2 separate regions of the Homo sapiens genome follow, and region 2 is linked to region 1. The links come from fine-mapping of genetic effects on plasma protein levels. Region 1 holds a variant in brackets. A gene starts in the other region. All regions are shown on their forward strands.

Region 1 (8,326 bases):
CTGAAAATCAACTAGGGCTCATCTTTTCCAAATACCTCTAATCAACGGCAGCAAGGGAGAAGGGTGAACTTTGGGCATAATGAAGATGACAAAAGAATTTTACTGACAATGACTATGATGAAAACTGTGAACAATTTATGATTTTATCCTCAGTACAATGAGTGATAAAGGACAGGCACACAGTGACTCACAATAGCTATGTAATTCCATCATCACTAAGGCAGAGGTAAGAACACACACAGTGGGACTGGGAATAGTCTTCTGACCTTACCTTCACTCTCTTCCATAGGAGCCACATTTTCTGGCTGACATGTCCAAATCTCTCCTCTCTGTTCTAGTTACTTAACAGAAGAAGTTCATAGACTTTGCTAACATACCATCTCAATATCTTTAACTGGGAATGCATCAGTTGAATTCTGTAAAAGCAGGCTTTGCTTACTCTCAATATTCCCTGTTTAAAAAAAAAAGTTGCTGGCTGCTTCTGACATGTTCCCAGTTAAACTCATGCTATCCTGTATGCCGCTGAGCCTCTCTTCCTCTCTAACCTGTTTCAGATTGGTTTCAGCAGCTGTATGTGCTTCATAGAAACAGAATTCTCTCCAAGGAAAAAAAACATCATTTCCAGTAAAATCACCAAACTCCAGCCTGCTATGTGAATGGAAGGAAATGTTACATTCTTTATAACAGGATGAATTACTTCCTGTTGTAAGTCCAGTGAAAAACGAATCATTGGTTAGGAAGAAACATAGGGCCCATGACATTTTCAGTGCTACCTATTATCTTCTTTCCAATAATAACTCCTGATGTTATAGTCACTTCAACATTGAGTTTGCTATATTATCAAGTAAATTCCCCTCTTGCCTTTACTGCAATCCTTTCAAGTTGACTTTTGCTTTTCTGTGCTACCCCATCCATGCAATGTTTCATGATTGGCTGCTATCCCTGAAGGTTATACTCATTCCAAGTTCAGTTGACTGAGGTTGCCCCAATTATTATTCTAAATGGATCTCTTTTTTTCATAAGATAAAAACATTATTTGAATAAAAGTGGATGTCAGATCCAATTTGAGAAGGCTTAAGCTTGAGAAGGAGAAAATAATTGGAAACTATTGAGTAAAAGGTTGAAAGTAAGAAAATTCTGGTTGTTGCATTCAAGGCAGATGAGTTTAGGAAAGGACTGAGGAGAGGAGGATGGGTTGGGAGGCATTCAGGGCAACCCAATCCTGAGGTGACACTTCAAGGGCTTGAATTCCCCAAAGCTATGAGAAATGAAGGACCCTAGAAACAAGGAATCTTAGAGAGTGGCCACAGTAAAAGGAGAAAAGAAAATAGGTCAGCCAAAAGGACAAGACAAGCGCCACTGGGAAAGACGGCATCACCAAAGTTTTGAGGCACAAAACTTTTAAGACCTTATAGTCCAAACTGCTTTAATGTGATTTAATTTCGTTTATTTATTTTTGAGATGGAGTCTCACTCTATCACTCAGGCTGCAGTGCAGTGGTGCAATCTCAGCTCACTGCAACCTCTGCCTCCCAGGTACAAGCGATTCTCCTGCCTCAGCCTCCCAAGTAGCTGGGATTACAAGTGTGACTCATCACTCCCAGCTAATTTTTGTATTTTTAGTAGACATGGGGTTTCACCATGTTGGCCAGGCTGGCCTCAAACTCCTGACCTCAAGTGATTTGCCCTCCTCAGCCTCCTAAAGTGCTGGGATTACAGGCATGAGCCACCACACCTAGCCCCAAACTGCTTTTATTTTAAATGCGAATTCATGCTTCAGAGTTGAATTAAATGTTACAAAATCTATGGTCCCAAACTCCACACCCCTCTGCTAGGAGGGACACCGGAATACACCAGCAAGGTCATGGAGGATAAGATAGTCTCCACAGAAACTATTTGCCTCCAAATATCTTTCTTTGAACAACCCTGTAACCCGATTAGCTCTCTAGCCTATCCCCATTTTGATACTGATGGGGTGAACAGCTGTGATTTATGTTGTCACTGAAACTGTTCAGCATCACCACCTGTCTCCCTCCACTGAGTTGGTGGCACTGATGTAGTGACACTGCCCTCCTTGGTGGGAACAAACAACTGCCAAAAGTCTGAAGAAATAAGTCCATAACTTTGCCCATCCAGAGGAGAATAGGTAAAGCCAGGACACATCCTCAAGTATTTTCCCCCGATATTCTCCCCTCATCCCTTACTAACAAATAAATATCTGGCTTCTGGGTTGACTTTATTTTTTAGAGCCCACTATGTAAGGTCAGATTGGGCAGTGAGTGTTGAAAGATGAAAGCAGGCTGGTGAGCAGGCCGACTGAGGAAGCCCACACGGCCTGCCTTAAATTCTAGTCCCACCACTTTCCAGCTGCGCCTCGGGCCATTATTTAACTTCTCTGAGATTGAGTTTCCTCATCTGTACACACACACACACACACACACACACACACACACACAAAACAAAAAGCCAAGATGATAATGCTTCCTTTGCAAGACGTAAAGAAGAAAAATATATAATTTTGACAACATAGGAAATGCTTTAGAAACAGCAGCTTCTACTGCCATTAAGAGAAATCGTATTTCTTGACCGTTTTCTTTGTGCCAGGCAATGGCCGAGCACTGTTGACATAAATTTCCTCATTTAATGCCCAGATCTGCTTTATGCAATAGATACTATTAACCTGGTTCAGACAGGTACAGCTATTAGACCAAAATTAATTGGCTCATATGGGCTGGCCTCAGCTGTCACCCCTAGACCTGTTTTTCTCCAAGGTTTCTTCTAGCAGATGACAAGTGTGTCCATCTTTCAAAGACCCAGGCTGGGACACTTCTCAAGGAACACTGTGATTTCCCTAGACTTGTATGACTTTGCTGTGAACTTGCTGGGTCGTGTAAAGTTGTTACTTTGGAGATAGTTTGGTTGCTACACTTATTCAGCTGCACCTCAAAGGGAACTGGATGTGTGTTTACCTCAGGTACAGTTATCCTCGCTCTCTGACAAGTGAAATGCTACTTTCAAGTTGTTTTGTTGAGAACTCTGAGAGCTCTTTACCCTCGGATCAAGGCAGAATGGGTACCAATATTTTAAGCTACACATTGGTCCATAGATAGATAGGTACATAGATAATTAGTCAGGCTTGTCCAGATAAAAAGGATCAATTGTGCGTGCGTGTGTGTGTGTGTGTGTGTGTGTGTGTGTGTCTCTGTTGCTAGTTAAGATTTTTCTTTTTGAAGGCTGGGCGCTGTGGCTTATGCCTGTAATTCTAACACTTTGGGAGGCCGAGGCGGGCGGATCACTTGGGCTCAGGAGTTTGAGACCAGCCTGGGCAACATGGTGAAACCCCATCTGTACCAAAAACACAAAAATTATCTGGGCATGGTGGTGTATGCCTGTGGTCCGAGCTACTTGGGAGGCTGAGGTGAGGTGGAAGGATCACTTGAGCCTGGGAGGCAGAGGTTGCAGTGAGCCGAGACACTCCAGCCTGGGCGACAGAGTGAAACCCCATCTAAAAAAAAAAAAAAGAAGATTTTTCTTTTTCAGCACCAGACTTATAACCTACACTTTGGGATCCTTCCACAAATCAGAAGGTTCCCTGGCCCCTCATAACTTCTTTGCACCACTATTTTTTTTTTTTTTTTTTTTGAGACGGAGTCTGGCTCTGTCGCCCAGGCTGGAGGGCAGTGGCA[T/C]GATCTTGGCTCACTGCAAGCTCTGCCTCCCGGGTTCACGCCATTCTCCTGCCTCAGCCTCCCGAGTAGCTGGGACTACAGGCGCCCGCCACCACGCCCGGCTAACTTTTTGTATTTTTAGTAGAGACGGGGTTTCACCGTGTTAGCCAGGATGGTCTCGATCTCCTGACCTCGTGATCCGCCCGCCTCGGCCTCCCAAAGTGCTGGGATTACAGGCGTGAGCCACCGCGCCCGGACTGCACCACTATTAATATATCCTTGTAATTTCCATCAGAAATGTCTTCCTGAGTTCTATATTCTGAAGCCAACTAGTCATTTCCTATGTATGAAGTTATCTAGCTTTTCTGACCAAAATACAGCTGAGACCTTGCCTCTTCTGCTTGAAATGGAAAAAGAAATTGCAATTAGTGTGCTAGATTTACAAAAATAAATTTTAGGCCTAAAGAAGTCAAGTTTTGAACTTTGGCTTCTGGTGTTAGAGCCGTCATTCACATCACCACATTCTGCTGCTTCCCAGTAATGCCAGCTAAGTATCATTAGAAACAATAGTGACCAGAAAGTAGAATAGAGGCTACCAAGGTGGGTGAGGTGGGAGTAGTGGGAAATTATTGTTTAATGGGTATAGAGTTTCTGTGTAGGATAATTTAAAATTTTGGAAATAGTAGTAATGATTATACTACATCATGGATATATTTCATGTCACTGCATTGTACAGTTAAAAATGGTTAAATGTTACATTTGTTGTTGTTGTTCAAAAGGTTCAAGCAATTCTCCTGCCTCAGTCTCCTGACTAGCTGGGATTACAAGCACGTACCATCACGCCGCCTAATTTTTGTATTTTTAGTAGAGACGGAGTTTCACCGTGTTGGCCAGGCTGGTCTCTGACTCCTAACCTCAAGGGGTCCACCTGCCTCGACCTCCCAAAGTGCTGGGATTACAGGCATGAGCCACCGCACGTGGCCAAATGTTATGTTAGGTTATATATTATGCTTACATTATACGTATTTTACCACAATAAAAAAATACACCAAAAAATAAACAGTAATTACGACTTGTTTTGCAATTCATTTAACTTATTAAAGCCTCCGTTTCTCCATCAGTAAAAAGGGTGACAATAACACCTAAGCTCAAAAATTGTTGTGATAATTAAACTCTAATACACCAAAAGCACCTAGCTTGGTATTTTGGGGGTGGTTATACAGCCTATCACCCCTTCATCTGATGGCTTCCATCGGCTCAACCCACCGGCCAGGGGTGGGCTTTCAGCAGCTGTGTTTTAATTTGCCTAATATGGCCTGTATGACTGTACTGTTTGGCACAGAGCCCACTGTGGTGCTCAGCCTACGTTCATTAACTTTCCTTTGCCCAATGCTAATACAACTTGAGTACCCCAAATTCAAAAATCAAAACTCCAAAATGTTCCAAAATCTGAAACTGTTTGAGCACTGACATGATGCTCCAAGGAAATACTCATTTCACATTTGGGATTTGCAGATTTGGGATGCTCAACCTGTAAGTATAATGTAAATATTCCAAAATCTGAAAAAAATTCAAAACTCAAAATACTTCTGCTTCTAAGCATTTCAGATAAGGGATACTCAACCTGTATCTCCATTTATTTATACTCACCAGGCTCAGCTAGCGGAGTTGGGCAATGTGTGCGCTAATGGGAAGCTTCTCTGTTATTTAAAAGTGGTAGCACACTATCTGAAAATCCCTAACACTTAATAGGTGCATAATGAATGTTTGTTCAACTAAATTGGATTGAATAGATGATAGACCACCAGGGAACCAGAGAAGAATGAGGATGTACTACTCAGAGACGGTTCCTGATGCACGTATCAGGGACTCTCAATCCATAGGGGATATAAACAGTATTTGTTGTTGATGAGGCAACTATGTTTGTGGTACACTTGATTACATTCCAGATTTAGGCTATTTTTTAAAAGCTCTTTTATGTGCAGTTTTACTACCTTGAACAACTGGAGCCAATGGGAAATTGGTGTTTGGGGGATCATCTGTAATGAAGAAAACTGCAGTAATAGGTATAAAAAGCAGATTCAAAGGCCACAAGTTACTTAATCCCCAGTTTAGGTGATGTTAATTAAAATCTGAAAAATGGAAATAGGCATTGATTGGGCTCACCTTTTATTTTTAAGGTTGCATAGATTCTATTATAGGAATGATCATTACAATTATGTAATTTAAGTTACACTGCTTTTAAATTCAGAGCAAGGAACATAAAACTTTATTCCATAAATATACAACTTCTAGAGGTATACAATAATTTCATTTTATATTTTCATAGGCTAAATGAAGAAGACAGGGTTGAGTGAAAGCAGAAAAGGGAATAATAAGGCAAGAGAGAGAGACAAGAGAAAAACCAGGCAAGGGTAGGTCAGATAGAGGTCCAAGGAAAAGAAGAAACCCACGTAAGGAAGACATAAATAGAAAAATAAAGAAGTAGACATAGTAGACATAGTAGGCATAGAAGGACAACCCAACTGGTTCTGAGGTAAGTGAATGAAACAAATTGGACTTCCTGCAAACCAGGGAATGTGGGAGTGATCATCTGATTGGCCTAGCTTGGGTTAGGTGTCTTCACATGGCCCAATCAGCTACAGTCGTACAGGCCATATTAGGCAAATTAAAACAGCGGCTGAAAGCCCAACCCTGGCTGGTGGGTTGAGGAGATGGAAGCCATCAGGTGAAGGGGTGATAGGCTGTATAACCACCCTGAAAATACCAAATATGCCCCATCCTTCCCTGAAACCTTTCAGTCCCTTCTGGTGAACCAGTCCAGTGGTTCTCATACTGTAGCCAATGCAAAAGTCACCTCAAGGGAATTAACACACAATTTCCCAGGCCCCAGGTTCGTTTTTTGTTTTTGTTTTTGAGACAGGCTGGGGTGCAGTGGTGCAATCACAGCTCACTGCAGCCTTGACCTGCTTGGCTCAAGTGATCCTCCTGCCTCAGAAGTGAACAAGAAAGACAGAGACACACAGAAACATGGAGAGCCACTGAGAGACCGATAATGAAGGAGTCAGGCCTACTCTTCCCAATGGTTATGCTACCACTTCTGACACTTGGGTGGAAGAGAGGTGAGAATGAGACAGAACAAGCAGGCCAGAGGTCCTTGAGCAGTGAAGTGGGTCCTAGCCCATCAGTGCAGAATAAACAAGAGAGAGATGACACTTTCAATCATTAATCTTTCCACATATATGGCAAATATAGCCCAAAAACTATTCCAGAGTCAGTTCAACTCACAGCAACTTTCTCTCCTTTGGGAGAAATTAGGAAGAGGTTTAAGAAAAACAGCAGATAGAGCCTTGAAACAAAATTTTTGTAGTACTCCCCAAACACCATGCTACACGTGCTACATGAAGTGAAAAGTGACCTGATGGCATGTAATGATGCTAAAGAGACAGTAAAAAATTAGGTATGGAAGTCCATTCGATGAGGTTAAAAAGCCTAGGCTATATCCTGTAGGTCAGTGCTGCTTGCTATTGTGGTCCATGAGGATGCAAATTCTCTAGCCCCATCCTGGACTGCTAACTCAGAATTTCAGATTTGAGGCTAGGTATGGTGGCTCACGGCTGTAATCCCAGCACTTTGGGAGGCCAAGGAGGGAAGAATGTTTGAGTCCAGGAGTTCAAGGCCAGATGGGCAACATAGCAAGATCCCAACTTTACAAAAATTAAAAAAAAAAATTAGCCAGATATAGTGGCACATGCCTGTAGTCCTAGCAACTTGGGAGGCTGAGACAGGAGGATTGCTTGAGCCCAGGAATTCAAGGTTGCCATGAGCTATGATTACACACTGGACTCCAGCCTGGTTGATACTGTGAGACTCCATTTCTAAATTAAAAAAAAAAAAAAAAAAAAGGAATGAAAGAAAGAGAAAAAAAAATCTTTTGCTTTTTTAAAATTTTTAATTTTAATTATTTTTATTCTTGTTGTCCTGTGTCACCAGGTAAATGTATCCACCTCATTGGGGAGGTAAGATTTCAGTATTTCTAGGCCCCCTGGGCTTTATACTATCATACTACCATCAAAACCTCACCTTATTTTTGACAGAGGCCATTTCATACAGGGAAAATCCTGGGCCCAAGAATCCATTCCCAACCCTGCCACTTTATGGCCCTGTGTCTTCCTTCCTCCCAAGCCAAATGAGGATTTCAAACACTGACATCACAGGGCTGTTGTAAGGCTTAAATGAGAAAATAGCTTTGAAAAGTGCTTTTGGCAACTATGAGACTTCAGCCCTCTTTGCTAAGCTTCTGTTCTTATCAAAGAGGGCTAAGCCTGGATCTCAGTGTTCAGCACAAAACTTGCTATCTGGGTGCTCTTTCTTGGTTGAGCGCCTATTCTTATCTTGATGACCGTCACCCAAGAAAATGATGTTGAATTTGGAACCCAGAAATTCTCAGCTCCTGTTCAGATTGCTTTCTTCCATGTAGCAATAGTCATTTGTTGTATCTTCATCCCCCAACATAAAATAGGAAAAACTGATCTGTTACTACTTAGCTCAAAATTTACTAACTAAACATCCCTGCCTTCCGGAATCTTATATGGCAAGTGGAATCCAACCATGATGACATCATGTTACCAACTATATAATGAGACCTTCCTACAGCTGGCC
Region 2 (8,326 bases), not on the chromosome of region 1:
TCTTCCATCAAGACCCAACTCAAGGCCAGGCACGGTGGCTCACGCCTGTAATCCCAGCACTCTGGGAGGCAGAGGTGGGCCGATCACTTGAGGTCAGGAGTTCGAGACCAGCCTGGGCAACATGGTGAAACACCATCTCTACTAAAAACACAAAAATTAGCCAGGTGTGGTGGCAGGCACCTGCAGTCCCAGCTACTCCGGAGGCTGAGGCAGGAGAATTGCTCGAACCTGGGAGGCAGGGGTTGCAGTGAGCCGACATGGCGCCACTGCACTCCAGTCTGGGCGACAGAGTGAGACCCTATCTCAAAAAAAAAAAAAAAAAAAAAAGACCCAACTCAAGTATCATCTCCAGGAAGCCTTCCCCTACTCCCAGCAATTAAATGCTCCTCAGAGAATTCCCATTTTTGGTTTACTCTTTGGTTTACCTCCAGACAGGAAGCCCCCACTGACACTGTTGTAGTCCCAGGGTGCAACACAAAGCAGAGATCACAAGCTGAGTTTAATAATTGCTTGTGGAATACATGTCCCAAGCCACCTCCTGCAGGAAGCCCTTCCAGATGCCCATTCTAGCCAGTCTGGCTCTTTGCTTCCATACCTTCACAACACTTGTGCCTCCCCCAGGGCCTCTTTCTCATCTTGCTTTCTGGGGCAGCTGTGTGCACATTTGTCTGTGTGCAGCAACTCTCTAAGGCAGGGATTTTTACTCCTATTTTTGATGAGGGGAGCTGTGGCTCAGAGAGGTTGAATAACCTAAGGCCACACAGTGAGTGGCAGAGCCAGGAATGTGACTTGGGTCCATTTGAATCCAAAGTCCCTGTACTTTCCACTGCCCTACCTAGATGTCCCTGTACCTCCTATAAAATCAGCATGGAGCCTGGTGCCTGGTAGTCCCTACAAATATTCACAAATTGGAGCTTAGCTCAGCTCTCAGGCAAGGCCCAGGTCAAAAGGGCAGATACAGCTTTGGGACCTTAGTTGCCACCACATGCCATACCTTCTTCCCAGCAGAAGGACTCCCTCCAAGACAGGGTAGGGGTGGAGGATGTGAACAGGGGCAGAAATGGGCATGTTTTGGGGTCAGACTTGGAGGAATAGCAGAGATTGGAGTGTCAGAAGGTGAGCATGCCTGGGGGTGTTGGGGAGATGCAATTCATCAGGGACAGCTTAGTGTCAGGGGATTAGACTGGGGCCCATGAAGGAGAGGCAGAGGCTGATGGGCCTAGGGGTGGTGTGGGTAGGTGAGCTTCCCCAGACAGTGACTCTGCCCTGCCCTCTCTCCAGCTAGGTCCTCTTCCCCATTCCTTCCCCCTTTCCTGACTGGATCCTCTTGGGAGAGTTACCCTCCTTGGCTTCCTCTGCTCCAATCTTTTTATCAGTTGGCCATCATTACTTATCATTACCTCAAGTCAAACCTCCAGATCCACATGGGGCTAGGACATTGGCACTGGACCAAAGAGGCCCTTTCCTTTGCTTTCTCTTTGTCTTTTTAATGCTTTGTTGCAAAGACCTAGGCGGGGAGAGAGAGAGAGAGAGAGAGACAGAGATTGACCCACAGTCAGGGTCAGGGAATTGAGGGGAACCAACCCAATTCTCTCTCCTTCAATTCACCAGGTTTGTATCCTGCCCTTCCTGCAGATCAGTGTCCTGCTAGTCACCTGGGGGTCAGGGGATGGAGTGAAGGACAAGACCTCCTTCCATTGCAGTGAAGCCACTTGGAGAAATGTGTGGAAAACAGCAAGACCCAGTGACTCTCTCCTCACCTTCTTTCCAATCTCAGGAGAGATTTTGTCCCTTCATCCACCGGCTTCTAGATTAACCACCCACACCCACACAGGCGAGAGTTTCCCTGAATATTGGAGGTGACAGGACATCAGGACAAAGTACAACTATTGTGCCTTGGCCCAATCACTACTTTCTTTGTCTGGGGCCGCCGCTGGCTCCTGGCTGCCTTTCGCACTTTTCTCCACCCCCACCCCTTTCTCCCCTTCCCCCTCACCTGGAACACCTTCCCCTTCCTCCTTGGCTCCTTCTGAACTGCCTTCAGAGCCACAGACTGTGGGGAGTGGCCACTGCGCTCCCAAGGTGAGGCCCTCCAAGCGGGGCCGAGTTTGCCCCTCAACTGGGAGCCAGCATGACCTCTGTGTGGGCTGCTCTCTGCTTCACTGCCCCTTCCCCCAATCTGCTAGGTGACCCTGGGCCCCTTTGTGCCCTCTCTGGGCCTTCGGAGGATTCTTTGGGGAGACAGTCTGCTCTGACGCCCCTTCCCCTGCAGCAAGCAGCCTGGGGAGGGAGGTGAGGATAAGTGAAGTCAAGTTGTTCAGGGGGCTAAGCCCATGGAAGGGAAGATGCCACAGAGATACATGTGGTCTTGTGATTGTTGTTTTGTGCTTTTTCCCCTTTTTTGAAAGCTCAGGTGACTAGGTGACTTGAGCTTTTAATTTGGTGACAATGTGGGCACTGGCTGAGTCCTTAAGAGTACATTGTTGTAAATGCCGGTGACAACACACTGGGGCATGGGATCCAGAGTTAACCCCTCCAGGTCACAGCCAGGTTATATCTCCACAATGAAGGGGGGAGGTGGGCCATACTTTCTCGCCCTAATGAAGGTAGCTCAAAAACCCCTAGGCCAGGTTGTAATCCTAGCCTTATATAAAAGGAATTCTGTGCCCTCACTCCCCTGGATCCCTGGGCAAAGCCCCAGAGGGAAACACAAACAGGTTGTTGTAACACACCTTGCTGGGTACCACCATGGAGGACAGTTGGCTTATGGGGGTGGGGGGTGCCTGGGGCCACGGAGTGACTGGTGATGGCTATCCCTCCTTGGAACCCCTCCAGCCTCCTCTTAGCTTCAGATTTGTTTATTTGTTTTTTACTAAGACCTGCTCTTTCAGGTCTGTTGGCTCTTTTAGGGGCTGAAGAAGGCCGAGTTGAGAAGGGATGCAAGGGAGGGGGCCAGAATGAGCCCTTAGGGCTCAGAGCCTCCATCCTGCCCCAAGATGTCTACAGCTTGTGCTCCTGGGGTGCTAGAGGCGCACAAGGAGGAAAGTTAGTGGCTTCCCTTCCATATCCCGTTCATCAGCCTAGAGCATGGAGCCCAGGTGAGGAGGCCTGCCTGGGAGGGGGCCCTGAGCCAGGAAATAAACATTTACTAACTGTACAAAGACCTTGTCCCTGCTGCTGGGGAGCCTGCCAAGTGGTGGAGACAGGACTAGTGCACGAATGATGGAAAGGGAGGGTTGGGGTGGGTGGGAGCCAGCCCTTTTCCTCATAAGGGCCTTAGGACACCATACCGATGGAACTGGGGGTACTGGGGAGGTAACCTAGCACCTCCACCAAACCACAGCAACATGTGCTGAGGATGGGGCTGACTAGGTAAGCTCCCTGGAGCGTTTTGGTTAAATTGAGGGAAATTGCTGCATTCCCATTCTCAGTCCATGCCTCCACAGAGGCTATGCCAGCTGTAGGCCAGACCCTGGCAAGATCTGGGTGGATAATCAGACTGACTGGTCCCACTCTTCCCACAGGCCTCAGAGCCCCAACTTTGTTCCCTGGGGCAGCCTGGAAATAGCCAGGTCAGAAACCAGCTAGGAATTTTTCCAAGCTGCTTCCTATATGCAAGAATGGGATGGGGCCTTTGGGAGCACTTAGGGAAGATGTGGAGAGTTGGAGGAAAAGGGGGCTTGGAGGTAAGGGAGGGGACTGGGGGAAGGATAGGGGAGAAGCTGTGAGCCTGGAGAAGTAGCCAAGGGATCCTGAGGGAATGGGGGAGCTGAGACGAAACCCCCATTTCTATTCAGAAGATGAGCTATGAGTCTGGGCTTGGGCTGATAGAAGCCTTGGCCCCTGGCCTGGTGGGAGCTCTGGGCAGCTGGCCTACAGACGTTCCTTAGTGCTGGCGGGTAGGTTTGAATCATCACGCAGGCCCTGGCCTCCACCCGCCCCCACCAGCCCCCTGGCCTCAGTTCCCTGGCAACATCTGGGGTTGGGGGGGCAGCAGGAACAAGGGCCTCTGTCTGCCCAGCTGCCTCCCCCTTTGGGTTTTGCCAGACTCCACAGTGCATACGTGGGCTCCAACAGGTCCTCTTCCCTCCCAGTCACTGACTAACCCCGGAACCACACAGCTTCCCGTTCTCAGCTCCACAAACTTGGTGCCAAATTCTTCTCCCCTGGGAAGCATCCCTGGACACTTCCCAAAGGACCCCAGTCACTCCAGCCTGTTGGCTGCCGCTCACTTTGATGTCTGCAGGCCAGATGAGGGCTCCAGATGGCACATTGTCAGAGGGACACACTGTGGCCCCTGTGCCCAGCCCTGGGCTCTCTGTACATGAAGCAACTCCAGTCCCAAATATGTAGCTGTTTGGGAGGTCAGAAATAGGGGGTCCAGGAGCAAACTCCCCCCACCCCCTTTCCAAAGCCCATTCCCTCTTTAGCCAGAGCCGGGGTGTGCAGACGGCAGTCACTAGGGGGCGCTCGGCCACCACAGGGAAGCTGGGTGAATGGAGCGAGCAGCGTCTTCGAGAGTGAGGACGTGTGTGTCTGTGTGGGTGAGTGAGTGTGTGCGTGTGGGGTTGAGGGCGTTGGAGCGGGGAGAAGGCCAGGGGTCACTCCAGGATTCCAATAGATCTGTGTGTCCCTCTCCCCACCCGTCCCTGTCCGGCTCTCCGCCTTCCCCTGCCCCCTTCAATATTCCTAGCAAAGAGGGAACGGCTCTCAGGCCCTGTCCGCACGTAACCTCACTTTCCTGCTCCCTCCTCGCCAATGCCCCGCGGGCGCGTGTCTCTGGACAGAGTTTCCGGGGGCGGATGGGTAATTTTCAGGCTGTGAACCTTGGTGGGGGTCGAGCTTCCCCTTCATTGCGGCGGGCTGCGGGCCAGGCTTCACTGAGCGTCCGCAGAGCCCGGGCCCGAGCCGCGTGTGGAAGGGCTGAGGCTCGCCTGTCCCCGCCCCCCGGGGCGGGCCGGGGGCGGGGTCCCGGCGGGGCGGAGCCATGCGCCCCCCCCTTTTTTTTTTAAAAGTCGGCTGGTAGCGGGGAGGATCGCGGAGGCTTGGGGCAGCCGGGTAGCTCGGAGGTCGTGGCGCTGGGGGCTAGCACCAGCGCTCTGTCGGGAGGCGCAGCGGTTAGGTGGACCGGTCAGCGGACTCACCGGCCAGGGCGCTCGGTGCTGGAATTTGATATTCATTGATCCGGGTTTTATCCCTCTTCTTTTTTCTTAAACATTTTTTTTTAAAACTGTATTGTTTCTCGTTTTAATTTATTTTTGCTTGCCATTCCCCACTTGAATCGGGCCGACGGCTTGGGGAGATTGCTCTACTTCCCCAAATCACTGTGGATTTTGGAAACCAGCAGAAAGAGGAAAGAGGTAGCAAGAGCTCCAGAGAGAAGTCGAGGAAGAGAGAGACGGGGTCAGAGAGAGCGCGCGGGCGTGCGAGCAGCGAAAGCGACAGGGGCAAAGTGAGTGACCTGCTTTTGGGGGTGACCGCCGGAGCGCGGCGTGAGCCCTCCCCCTTGGGATCCCGCAGCTGACCAGTCGCGCTGACGGACAGACAGACAGACACCGCCCCCAGCCCCAGCTACCACCTCCTCCCCGGCCGGCGGCGGACAGTGGACGCGGCGGCGAGCCGCGGGCAGGGGCCGGAGCCCGCGCCCGGAGGCGGGGTGGAGGGGGTCGGGGCTCGCGGCGTCGCACTGAAACTTTTCGTCCAACTTCTGGGCTGTTCTCGCTTCGGAGGAGCCGTGGTCCGCGCGGGGGAAGCCGAGCCGAGCGGAGCCGCGAGAAGTGCTAGCTCGGGCCGGGAGGAGCCGCAGCCGGAGGAGGGGGAGGAGGAAGAAGAGAAGGAAGAGGAGAGGGGGCCGCAGTGGCGACTCGGCGCTCGGAAGCCGGGCTCATGGACGGGTGAGGCGGCGGTGTGCGCAGACAGTGCTCCAGCCGCGCGCGCTCCCCAGGCCCTGGCCCGGGCCTCGGGCCGGGGAGGAAGAGTAGCTCGCCGAGGCGCCGAGGAGAGCGGGCCGCCCCACAGCCCGAGCCGGAGAGGGAGCGCGAGCCGCGCCGGCCCCGGTCGGGCCTCCGAAACCATGAACTTTCTGCTGTCTTGGGTGCATTGGAGCCTTGCCTTGCTGCTCTACCTCCACCATGCCAAGGTAAGCGGTCGTGCCCTGCTGGCGCCGCGGGCCGCTGCGAGCGCCTCTCCCGGCTGGGGACGTGCGTGCGAGCGCGCGCGTGGGGGCTCCGTGCCCCACGCGGGTCCATGGGCACCAGGCGTGCGGCGTCCCCCTCTGTCGTCTTAGGTGCAGGGGGAGGGGGCGCGCGCGCTAGGTGGGAGGGTACCCGGAGAGAGGCTCACCGCCCACGCGGGCCCTGCCCACCCACCGGAGTCACCGCACGTACGATCTGGGCCGACCAGCCGAGGGCGGGAGCCGGAGGAGGAGGCCGAGGGGGCTGGGCTTGCGTTGCCGCTGCCGGCTGAAGTTTGCTCCCGGCCGCTGGTCCCGGACGAACTGGAAGTCTGAGCAGCGGGGGCGGGAGCCAGAGACCAGTGGGCAGGGGGTGCTCGGACCTTGGACCGCGGGAGGGCAGAGAGCGTGGAGGGGGCAGGGCGCAGGAGGGAGAGGGGGCTTGCTGTCACTGCCACTCGGTCTCTTCAGCCCTCGCCGCGAGTTTGGGAAAAGTTTTGGGGTGGATTGCTGCGGGGACCCCCCCTCCCTGCTGGGCCACCTGCGCCGCGCCAACCCCGCCCGTCCCCGCTCGCGTCCCGCTCGGTGCCCGCCCTCCCCCGCCCGGCCGGGTGCGCGCGGCGCGGAGCCGATTACATCAGCCCGGGCCTGGCCGGCCGCGTGTTCCCGGAGCCTCGGCTGCCCGAATGGGGAGCCCAGAGTGGCGAGCGGCACCCCTCCCCCCGCCAGCCCTCCGCGGGAAGGTGACCTCTCGAGGTAGCCCCAGCCCGGGGATCCAGAGAACCATCCCTACCCCTTCCTACTGTCTCCAGACCCTACCTCTGCCCAGTGCTAGGAGGAATTTCCTGACGCCCCTTCTCTTCACCCATTTCCTTTTTAGCCTGGAGAGAAGCCCCTGTCACCCCGCTTATTTTCATTTCTCTCTGCGGAGAAGATCCATCTAACCCCTTTCTGGCCCCAGAGTCCAGGGAAAGGATGATCACTGTCAGAAGTCGTGGCGCGGGAGCCCACTGGGCGCTTTGTCACATTCCACCGAAAGTCCCGACTTGGTGACAGTGTGCTTCCCTTCCCTCGCCAACAGTTCCGAGTGAGCTGTGCTTTAGCTCTCGTGGGGGTGGGTCAAGGGAGGATTTGAAGAGTCATTGCCCCACTTTACCCTTTTGGAGAAATGGCTTGAAATTTGCTGTGACACGGGCAGCATGGGAATAGTCCTTCCTGAACCCTGGAAAGGAGCTCCTGCCAGCCTTGCACACACTTTGTCCTGGTGAAAGGCAGCCCTGGAGCAGGTGTTTTTTTGGAACTCCAAACCTGCCCACCCAACTTGCTTCTGAAAGGGACTCTAAAGGGTCCCTTTCCGCTCCTCTCTGACGCCTTCCCTCAGCCAGAATTCCCTTGGAGAGGAGGCAAGAGGAAAGCCATGGACAGGGGTCGCTGCTAACACCGCAAGTTCCTCAGACCCTGGCACAAAGGCCTTGGCTACAGGCCTCCAAGTAGGGAGGAGGGGGAGGAGTGGCTGCCTGGCCACAGTGTGACCTTCAGAGGCCCCCAGAGAAGGACACCTGGCCCCTGCCTGCCTAGAACCGCCCCTCCTGTGCTCCCTGGCCTTGGAAGGGGTATGAAATTTCCGTCCCCTTTCCTCCTTGGGGCCCAGGAGGAGTGGAGGGTCCCGGGAGAATATTGTCAGGGGGAAGGCAGGGGGTGTCATGGGAATGGGTGAGGGGGCTGAGGTGCAGAATCCAGGGGGTCCCTGCAGGAGCCGCAGTGGTAAGCTGTCCAGCTGGAAGCCTGGTAACTGTTGTTTTCTCTTGAGAGGGGCTTCCTGTGACCTTGGCTGTCTCTGGGAGCAGGGCTGGGGTACCTGAGTGGGGTGCATTTGGGGTGTGTGGGAAGGAGAGGGAAAGAAAGATGGACAGTGGGACTCTCCCCTAGCAGGGTCTGGTGTTCCGTAGGCTAGAGTGCCCCTCTGCTCTGCGAGTGCTGGGCGGGAGGGGAGTTGGTGAGAGCTGGAGACCCCCAGGAAGGGCTGGCAGAAGCCTTTCCTTTTGGGTGCTGTCAGGTCCGCATGTCTTGGCGTGTTGACCTTCACAGCTTCTGGCGAGGGGAGGAATGATCTGATGCGGGTGGGGAGGGTTAGAGGAGGCCTCAGGCCTAAGG

Direction of the effects. Alleles are on the strand shown, and positions count from the first base shown. The strength of an association depends on the size of the effect and on how common the allele is.
With allele T in place of C in region 1, the plasma level of the protein whose gene starts at base 5,038 in region 2 is higher (strong association).

The links. PIP is the posterior inclusion probability: the model's chance that the variant is causal. The UK Biobank Pharma Proteomics Project read protein levels with antibody pairs (Olink). The fine-mapping took linkage between variants from a reference panel, not from the people measured, so its PIPs are less certain.
Region 2: VEGFA starts here. The variant in region 1 is fine-mapped to the plasma level of the VEGFA protein (UK Biobank, PIP above 0.99).

Annotation. Positions count from the first base shown.
Region 1 is chr9:2,691,229-2,699,554 of GRCh38, forward strand. LOC105375957 (a long non-coding RNA gene) reads right to left here and starts at 3,233. Exons shown (of 3, transcript XR_929436.3): 1 at 1-3,233. The variant T/C (reference allele first, on the strand shown) is at 3,686.
Region 2 is chr6:43,765,174-43,773,499 of GRCh38, forward strand. VEGFA (vascular endothelial growth factor A) reads left to right here and starts at 5,038. Exons shown (of 8, transcript NM_003376.6): 1 at 5,038-6,139. The coding sequence starts at 5,534. RefSeq lists enhancers at 1-100, 5,463-6,228, 6,229-6,994, 6,995-7,760, 7,761-8,326 and silencers at 4,851-5,100, 5,478-6,417, 6,488-7,007.